3 separate regions of the Homo sapiens genome follow, and regions 2 and 3 are each linked to region 1. Evidence: fine-mapped expression QTL. A gene starts in region 1. Each other region holds a variant in brackets. All regions are shown on one strand. Distances are between the middles of the regions.

Region 1 (2,500 bases):
CCATGTTGAGTTTTTGATATGCATTTAAGATCTCTGTGTGAAATTCAATTAAAGATGTACAGACAGCTGAACAAATGGGTCTGAAAATCAGGGAAATAAATTTGCGTTGGGGATTTAAATTTGAGACTATAAATCATGAAAGTGGTGAGATTGTCTAGGGACAATATTTACCATGAAGAAAACATTACTAGAATAGAATCTTGAAGAACATCAACATTTAAGGAGTAAAATGAGGTACAGACCTTGCTCACCAATGTGTCATTAACGCCTAGCTTGGTGCCTGGAAAAAACTGGATGCTCAATAAATGTTTGTGAGGTTATAGATCGATAGAGGAAGAGAGGGAGGTAGAAGTATTTGTCATAAAAATAGGAGAACTTGAAGACAAATAAGGTTCTGGAAGAAAGGAAAGTTTCAAGAGAGTGCATTGGAGAATGTCAAATGCTACCTTGATCAAAATGAAGACTAAAGAGAGTTCCCTTGATTTAACAACCAGACCGAGAATATAGCAGGGTCCTAGCAAAGAGAAGTTAACGCCTGAACTGACACTTGAAGGACAATCATTTTACAAACAAGAGGAAACTTACTACGTGCCTAATTAACCATGTCAGGTACACTATGGTTAATTCCACAAATGCTTGTTAGTTAACGAGGAGACTGGCAGATGATAACGCTGCAGACCAGGACCCTCCCCACCCTTATATTCCCCTACCTCAGCGCAAACTCTTTCCCCCAGCACCACCGGCCTCTTATCCAGGCAGTCCACGCCGGCCCAGGAACGTTCCCAGAACTACGGCTCCCAGCAGGACAAGCGCCAGACAAGCCTGGACTCAAGAGGATAGACTGGGCAAAAGCGCTTCTGGGAATCGTAGTTTAGGGCGCCGACCTCAAGATCCAGGCTGGGCACGCTACCCGACCAACTCCTTACTTGAGCTCTTCAGCCGAATACATCCCGAAGGAAATGCCCTGCAGCCGCCGCCAGGGCATGTTCTTGGAGATCAACATCCTCCAGGTCCGTTTTGAATTCCGACACCCCAAGAGACGTTCCACTCACCACCTGACTATTCTTAATTCAACCTCAAGCCCGGAGTCACCACGCGATTCAACGTGCGCTTGCGCGCGGAAGCGGTCGCAGGAACGACATTTACGTGGATGAGATCACTTCTACATGGGGGGGGAACAAATAGTTGTACGACTCTCTGCTCGCTCTTTTGTTTTGAAAACAATCAAAGATATATAAGACATCAAAATAATCATTTAGGAAAATTCCTCCGAGGCAAATCGGGTGTATAGAGCTTTTAGCTTCCGTGACGAAGTCTTTCAAACCATGAGCTTGCAACCTCCCATTTTATGATTGCTTTCGTCTTCTTCCGCTTCAGCCAATAGCGGAGCTGTTCCCTGCTCCCCGCCCACTGCGCCCCACCTTCCTGAAGGTCGAGGCACGCTTTCCCAACATGCTCTGCAGAGAAATCAAAGATGGCGGTTGTATCTGCTGTTCGCTGGCTGGGCCTCCGCAGCAGGCTTGGCCAGCCGCTGACGGGTCGGCGGGCGGGTTTGTGTGAACAGGCACGCAGCTGCAGGTAAGAGACGCTTAGGGTATCCGCGAAGAAGACCGCGGAGTCACCTTAGTCCTATGTTTCCCAGCTGGCTGTGGAAGTAGGCACGATGAAATGGTTTGCTCATGCGCGCCCTTAACGGTCGCGTGCCCTTAAGACCAGGTACGCGGAGGTGGCCCTTTGAAATAGGATTCGCAACGCATTTATTCATTAGAGAAATACTTATTGGTTGCTTGCAATATTCTGTAGTTAACACCATCCGCAAAGCTAGGACCCTGCTCTCATGAAGCTTGCGTTCCAGTGAGTGTGGCTATTAGCAACACTACCCCAAATTAAAAATTATCCGCCATTACTCATTTTAACCCAATCAGGAGGAGCGAGGAGAACGTACAAGATCTTCCCAAATAAAAGGCAGTCTCTGGTCGCCACCGTGGGGACTTTGGCTAAAGAAGTTATCAGGTTTTCGTAAAAGCAGAAAAGTCTAAAAGATCTGACTATGCCCTTTTGATCTGTGATAGTTATAGCTTGGAACATGTATGACCTATCTGTGTAATTTTTTTTTCACTCAGTACAAACAGTGGCATTGTGGGAATATGAGAGGCAGTAATTTGTAGTGAAAACTTGCTAAAAGCCTAATTTTAGGTTTAGTGTTTGCCATTCACTTAATTGGATGATAATAGACAGATTTCCTCATCTGCAGACTAGAGTTGGTAATAACCATCCGAAAAGTTTGTGAGGTATAAGTGGGGTATGTAATTTACAATATGTTTTTATATGTACTCTCCCTTAGTTCCCCTCAAGAAAGAGAAACCACTCCATCTGATACTGCAGAAACCTTTGTGCTGCCATTCAATGCCAGTCCTCCGTTTCCTGGTAGCCATCGTTAGCATTTTTCTACTCATTTTCTTTGCCTGAAGCAGAATCTCTTCCTCAGCATCCGTTCTCA
Region 2 (2,500 bases), 58 kb before region 1:
GAGCAAGACTTCATCTCGAAAAAAAACGAAAGAAAGAAAGAAACAATCATGCAAAATTACGTAAAAATTGTGTGAGTATACATAATTTATCTATATAACGTGAATATATGTAATAGTACAGTTTGTAAATTTGTAATATATATCTACGTTATACATATCCCATCTGCATATTCATAACTACATCTGCCTTTAACATTGGCATGTTAACAGTGGTTAGCTCCTGTAGTGATTTCTACACGCTTTCCTCTTTTTACTTGTCATGTTTTATAGGGAACAAACTGAAACCACCTCCTGCTATCCCCCACCTGCCTTTGCTGACACCTGTAAAGCTGCCAACCCGCCTCTGCACATACCTGCATCGTGTTCACAGTTGAACCTTTGGCTCCCGACTGCACCATCATCTGCAGGCTGTTCTCTGGGAACTGTCTGTGTAGGCCAAAAGGCATGCATGCCTGCAGATTAAATCAGCACAGTGGTCAGTGACTTCACCTTCTTTAAAAATCCCAGAATCAGGATGTAAATCCAGGAAGCAGAAGCAATACAGCCAGAATATTTATTCAGACCTAAGTACCAAATCCCACTCGAGGTAAGAGAAAGCCTCATTCAGCATTAATCCTTCCCTGGAACCCCTGAGAGGTCAAACAGGTGCTCCCTGCCCTGCACTCGCTGGACTTCCTCTGCCAGGATCCCCGAGGTTTCATTCATTGGCCAAAGAGCAGCAAAAAGGGAGAAGGAAAAGGAGAAGTAGAGGGGCTGGCAGATCCAGTTCGTGATTCTAAAAAGAAGCTGGAGAAGAATAAAATTTAAGGTGATGCCCTTGATTCGCCCAGCAGAGCCTGGCCTGGGTCCTCTCCCAGCGTGAATACCAACATCCGCATCATGTCACATTTACGAACATGCCACCCAAGCCCCATGTAGGAAGCTCTGTCTTGGCTCAAGAGCCAGCAGAACCAAGCATGCCCCTTCAGGGGGATCCTGGGGAGATGCTGAGAAGGGGGCTCTGAGTCTGGGGCTTCTAGCCTGTGCCTGGAATTCCACAGACTTGGCCCAACACAGGAGAGGCAGAGCCTGGGTGGGCGGAGGTGGTGGGAAGAGGGCAACTGGAGGGACAAGAAACCATTCTGAGATGCATCTGAAGACAACTTCCCTACTCCTAGCATCCCCAGTCAGCCCTAGAAGCTGAGCTTCCTGGTTCTCA[G/C]GGAGGTGCTAGGAAAGCTCCTGTCAACAAAACCCCTCAAGGATGGAACCTGTCCCCATGAGAAGTCGGTCTTCTCAGCAGCCTAAGGGATGCTAAAAGCCAGGCAAGAGAGCACTACAGACGAACTTTGACTTTTGATGAGTGTTGGCATTGCCTCCTCCTCCCCACTCCTCAGGCTGGGCCCCAGGGCCCAGGAGGCAGGGTGAGGGCCAGGCCAGCTCCTCCAAGCAGCAGGATGGAGAACCCTGGCTCTGGGGCAGAAAGGCAGAGAAAAGCAGGCTGTGGTTTCAGCTCATGCAGAGATTTCCCCTCTCCTTTCTCAACTGCCCAGGAACTGGCTTGGCATTGTGTACTAGTAGCTCCTGAAGCCTCTCTGCAGCCCTGTGAGGTGGTGCCCCTCACAGCCCCACTTCCAGGTGAGGAAACCAAGGCAGGGACTGGTTATCTCACTTGCCCAAGGTCACACAGCAAGTTCAAGGCAGAGCCAGGACTGGAACCTGAGCCTTCACTCCTGGCTCCGCTGCATGAGCAGCCAGGGCGATCCGGGTCCCTCACCCTGCTTATTCACCCCTGGTGGCCCCATTCAGCCCCTTTAATGCAGTCACCCCAAAATAAAAACATTTATAAAGAAAAACAGCACAAAGCATTCTCTCTTGGCACTATTCTGAGGCCTGTATAGACCCTAACTGGGGCAGGGAACAAAGCCCTGGGCCCTTCAAAACAACGAGTTCTACCCATCCCACCTCGCATCTCACCTAGTCAGCTGTTCAACAGCCAAGGTGCTCTGTAGGGCCCAGGTGAGAATCAAAATGTAATTTTTTTAAAAATCAGCATTCATAGTGGTGGGGATAAATGCATGCAATGCTGGGCTAACCTTGTTAATCTCATTGCTGTAATGGTTCACTTCCTCCTTGAACTTCAGATCAATCATGTTAAAATCCCTCTGGTCCTTGCCCAGATGGGCATCCTGCCATTTTCCTCGGACCTCATCATATGATGCGGCTTCTGGCAGGTTTAATGCAGCCCTGACAGCCTAGAATGAGAACAGAAACACAGCGGAGGCTGAGGCCAAACGACGAGAGTGTGGGTTTTGACTCAGCACACACTTCACCCCTCTAGGGCAGGCCACGGCCTCGAAGTCCCTCCTTACCTGGGGCCCGCAGTGGGTGGATTCTTCAATGATACGTTGCCTCTTGACATCTGCCTTTGGCTTCACCAAAATGTCTTCCACGCCTGTGAAGTGAAACAGACAAGCTTGTAGGCGACCTCAGGCCTGATTTCTCCCACCAGACTAAACTCAGT
Region 3 (2,500 bases), 32 kb before region 1:
GCCTAGGAGTTGGAAACCATCCTTGGCAACATGGTGAAACCCCATGTCTACAGAAAATACACAAACTAGCCACACCTGTGGTCCCAGCTACTCGGGAGGCTGAGTCAGAAGGATCACCTGAGCCCAGGAGGTGGAGGCTGAAGCAAGCTGTGATTATACCACTGCACTTTAGCCTGGGAGACAGAGCGAGACCTTGTCTCAAAAAAAAATAAAATAAAAAAAAAAAAAATGACAGGTTTTGGTGGGTAGCAGACTACAGTCCTCAGGCTGGCCACCTGCTTCTGTAAATAAAGTTTGATTGGAACACAGCCATGCCTATTTGTTTGTGTACTACCTGTGGCTGCTTTGGTATTAGGTGGCAGAGCTGAGCAGCTACAGCAGAGCCTGCATGGCCCAGGACCACAGAAATATTTACTATCTGACCCCAGAGGAATGAGGGCTTGCTAAGGCCTGAGAGAGCAGCAAGAATTCGCTGCCTTCAGTCCCCTCTTTAGCCCTGAGGCTGGCCCCAGCACCTGGCTCACAGTTGCCTCCTGATGACCCCAAACTCTCCCTGCCCACTTGCCCTGCACATTCCCCTCAAACTTGTTTCTTCTTGGACATTATGTGCTTAAAGTCACTGTCTGTCACTGCTGTTCCCTATGGTGTCTACCACACCCCTCCGCAACAGCAATACATTTATATGCTTACTTCCTAGTGGTTCCCCCACCATGCTGTCAACTCCAGGGTGGCGAGGATCCGTCTGCAGGGACTGCAAAGTGCTAGCATGCAGGGGGCATCAGTACTGCCTCATCCCTCACCCCTTCTCCTAGTCTCTTTCTCATCCTTTCCTATTGTGAGTCTGTTTCACATGTTTGACCTGAGTTAAATGTAAGTGAAGTGAAACACACCTTGCTTCTTTTTGCATTGCTCACACAGTGCCTAGCGAAACACCAGGCACTTAGGAAAGGCAGACCGATTCTACGAACCTGAATACAAACCTTACTTCGTGCACTAGAGAAGAACAAAAGAGGTGACTTGATCTATGTTTGCATGTGCCCTGTCACCAAAGGAGAATACAGTAATACAGGCAGTGTATTACTGCTGCCCCTCAGGA[C/T]GGCGGTGAGAACGAGAGGAAGCAAGAAGGCCTGTGATGAGCAGTGATGGGCACCGCCGCAAGGCCAGGAGCATTTCCTTTTCCTCTCGGTTCCTCCAAAGTTCCTTCAAGGCTGATGCAACTTTGCAGAGGTGAACTCAGTGTTAAAGAAGGGCAGGTCAGCCATGGGTATGGGTGGGCAGAGGGCAAGGAGAGGCCCTCTGTGCAGGTGGGTGAGGAAAATCCAGGCAGTCACCTATTGACTCCGGTAGTCACTTGTGGGTTACATCCAAGTCGAATCCATTTCCCTCCAACAACTGCTGCCACTGTTGCCTAGTTAGGGGTCATCTGCTACTCCCCTCCCAGCAGGAATGGCTATTATGTGACAGAGCCACAGAGCTGTCACCTGCTGATTTCATGCACTCAGCAACATTGTTAATCGATCATGTGCTCCTTCCAGTGGAACCTGATAGAGCCTCAGGATTCCCTACCACAGCACTATGGGCTAGCATTAGCAATTGCCCAAAATGGAAACATTAGTTATAACCTGTTATTTGTTGGTTATCACTGGCACAGAGCACTCCCTTCCTAAGAGTGGCTCTCAAACATCAGCATGCAGAAGAACCCCCTGGAAAGCACGGTAAAGAAAGATTCTGAACTCTATTCTCAGAGATTCAAATTCAGTAGAGGTGGGGGGATGTGCATTGCTCACAAGCTCCAGGGCTGCTGCTGATGCTGGTCTGGGGACTGCCCTTTGAGTAGTCCTGTTTAAGGGCAGCCATTCTTCTGCCCGGAGACTACAAGGTGAATCTAAAAAGCCACCCACGTGTCGGGGAGCTTCCTCCTAGGGATGGGCTCCTGTGTCAGTGCGCACCGGAGCCACACCTGATGGCCACCAATCACCAGAATCCGAACAGGAGCCGGATGGGTCCCTGACCAAAGCTGCCCTTACTCACAATTTTTGTCCCCTGGGGCTTAGGTGCCCCCGTGGCTGGGGTCAGAAGCTGCTTGGCCACGGCCTCTCGCTGGGTCATGTCCACAGCGCTCAGGGCTGTGCGGCTGCCGTCCTCATTGATGACCATGGAGGCTCCTGGGTGCACATTAGGGCCGTTGATGACCGCTTGCCTAAGTTCCTGAACATTCCATGGGGTAACTGGCTGTGGGTAGGTCAGTTTTGTGGCAAACACCTGGAAATGAGGAATGGAGGTAGAAATTCAGGGCAGGGATAAAAAAAGGTCTGATGGACCCCAAATCTGTCTCAACAGGCTGTCTTTTCACCCAAGATGTGGAGGAGCTGTTTGACTTGGCCAAGAAGGTCTTCCAGTGAGCAAAGTAACATCCTGCCTGTCTTCTGCTACTCCCTTAATGGTATAGAGACTAGGCCTCCTTTTCTACCAGTTAGTCTGAGGAGAATAATTTAAGCGC

Evidence for each region. PIP is the estimated chance that this variant, and not a neighbour inherited with it, causes the effect. A credible set is the group of variants that fine-mapping cannot tell apart.
Region 2: its variant is the best candidate, but not a certain one, in a credible set for the expression of POLR1A in skeletal muscle (GTEx, PIP 0.69).
Region 3: its variant is the best candidate, but not a certain one, in a credible set for the expression of POLR1A in prefrontal cortex (BrainSeq, PIP 0.70).

The regions. Positions count from the first base shown.
Region 1 is chr2:86,104,774-86,107,273 of GRCh38, forward strand. POLR1A (RNA polymerase I subunit A) reads right to left here and starts at 1,113. Exons shown (of 34, transcript NM_015425.6): 1 at 927-1,113. The coding sequence starts at 1,003. It overlaps PTCD3 (pentatricopeptide repeat domain 3), which reads left to right and starts at 1,462. Exons shown (of 24, transcript NM_017952.6): 1 at 1,462-1,578. The coding sequence starts at 1,475. RefSeq lists enhancers at 633-722, 923-1,132, 1,513-1,772.
Region 2 is chr2:86,046,812-86,049,311 of GRCh38, forward strand. It overlaps POLR1A (RNA polymerase I subunit A), which reads right to left. Exons shown (of 34, transcript NM_015425.6): 17 at 2,349-2,431; 18 at 2,073-2,231; 19 at 354-452. Among named protein-coding and RNA genes, the nearest start is that of POLR1A, 58 kb to the right of the region's middle. The variant G/C (reference allele first, on the strand shown) is at 1,199.
Region 3 is chr2:86,072,999-86,075,498 of GRCh38, forward strand. POLR1A (RNA polymerase I subunit A) reads right to left here. Exons shown (of 34, transcript NM_015425.6): 12 at 2,032-2,262. Among named protein-coding and RNA genes, the nearest start is that of POLR1A, 32 kb to the right of the region's middle. RefSeq lists enhancers at 1,543-2,043, 2,044-2,500. The variant C/T (reference allele first, on the strand shown) is at 1,097.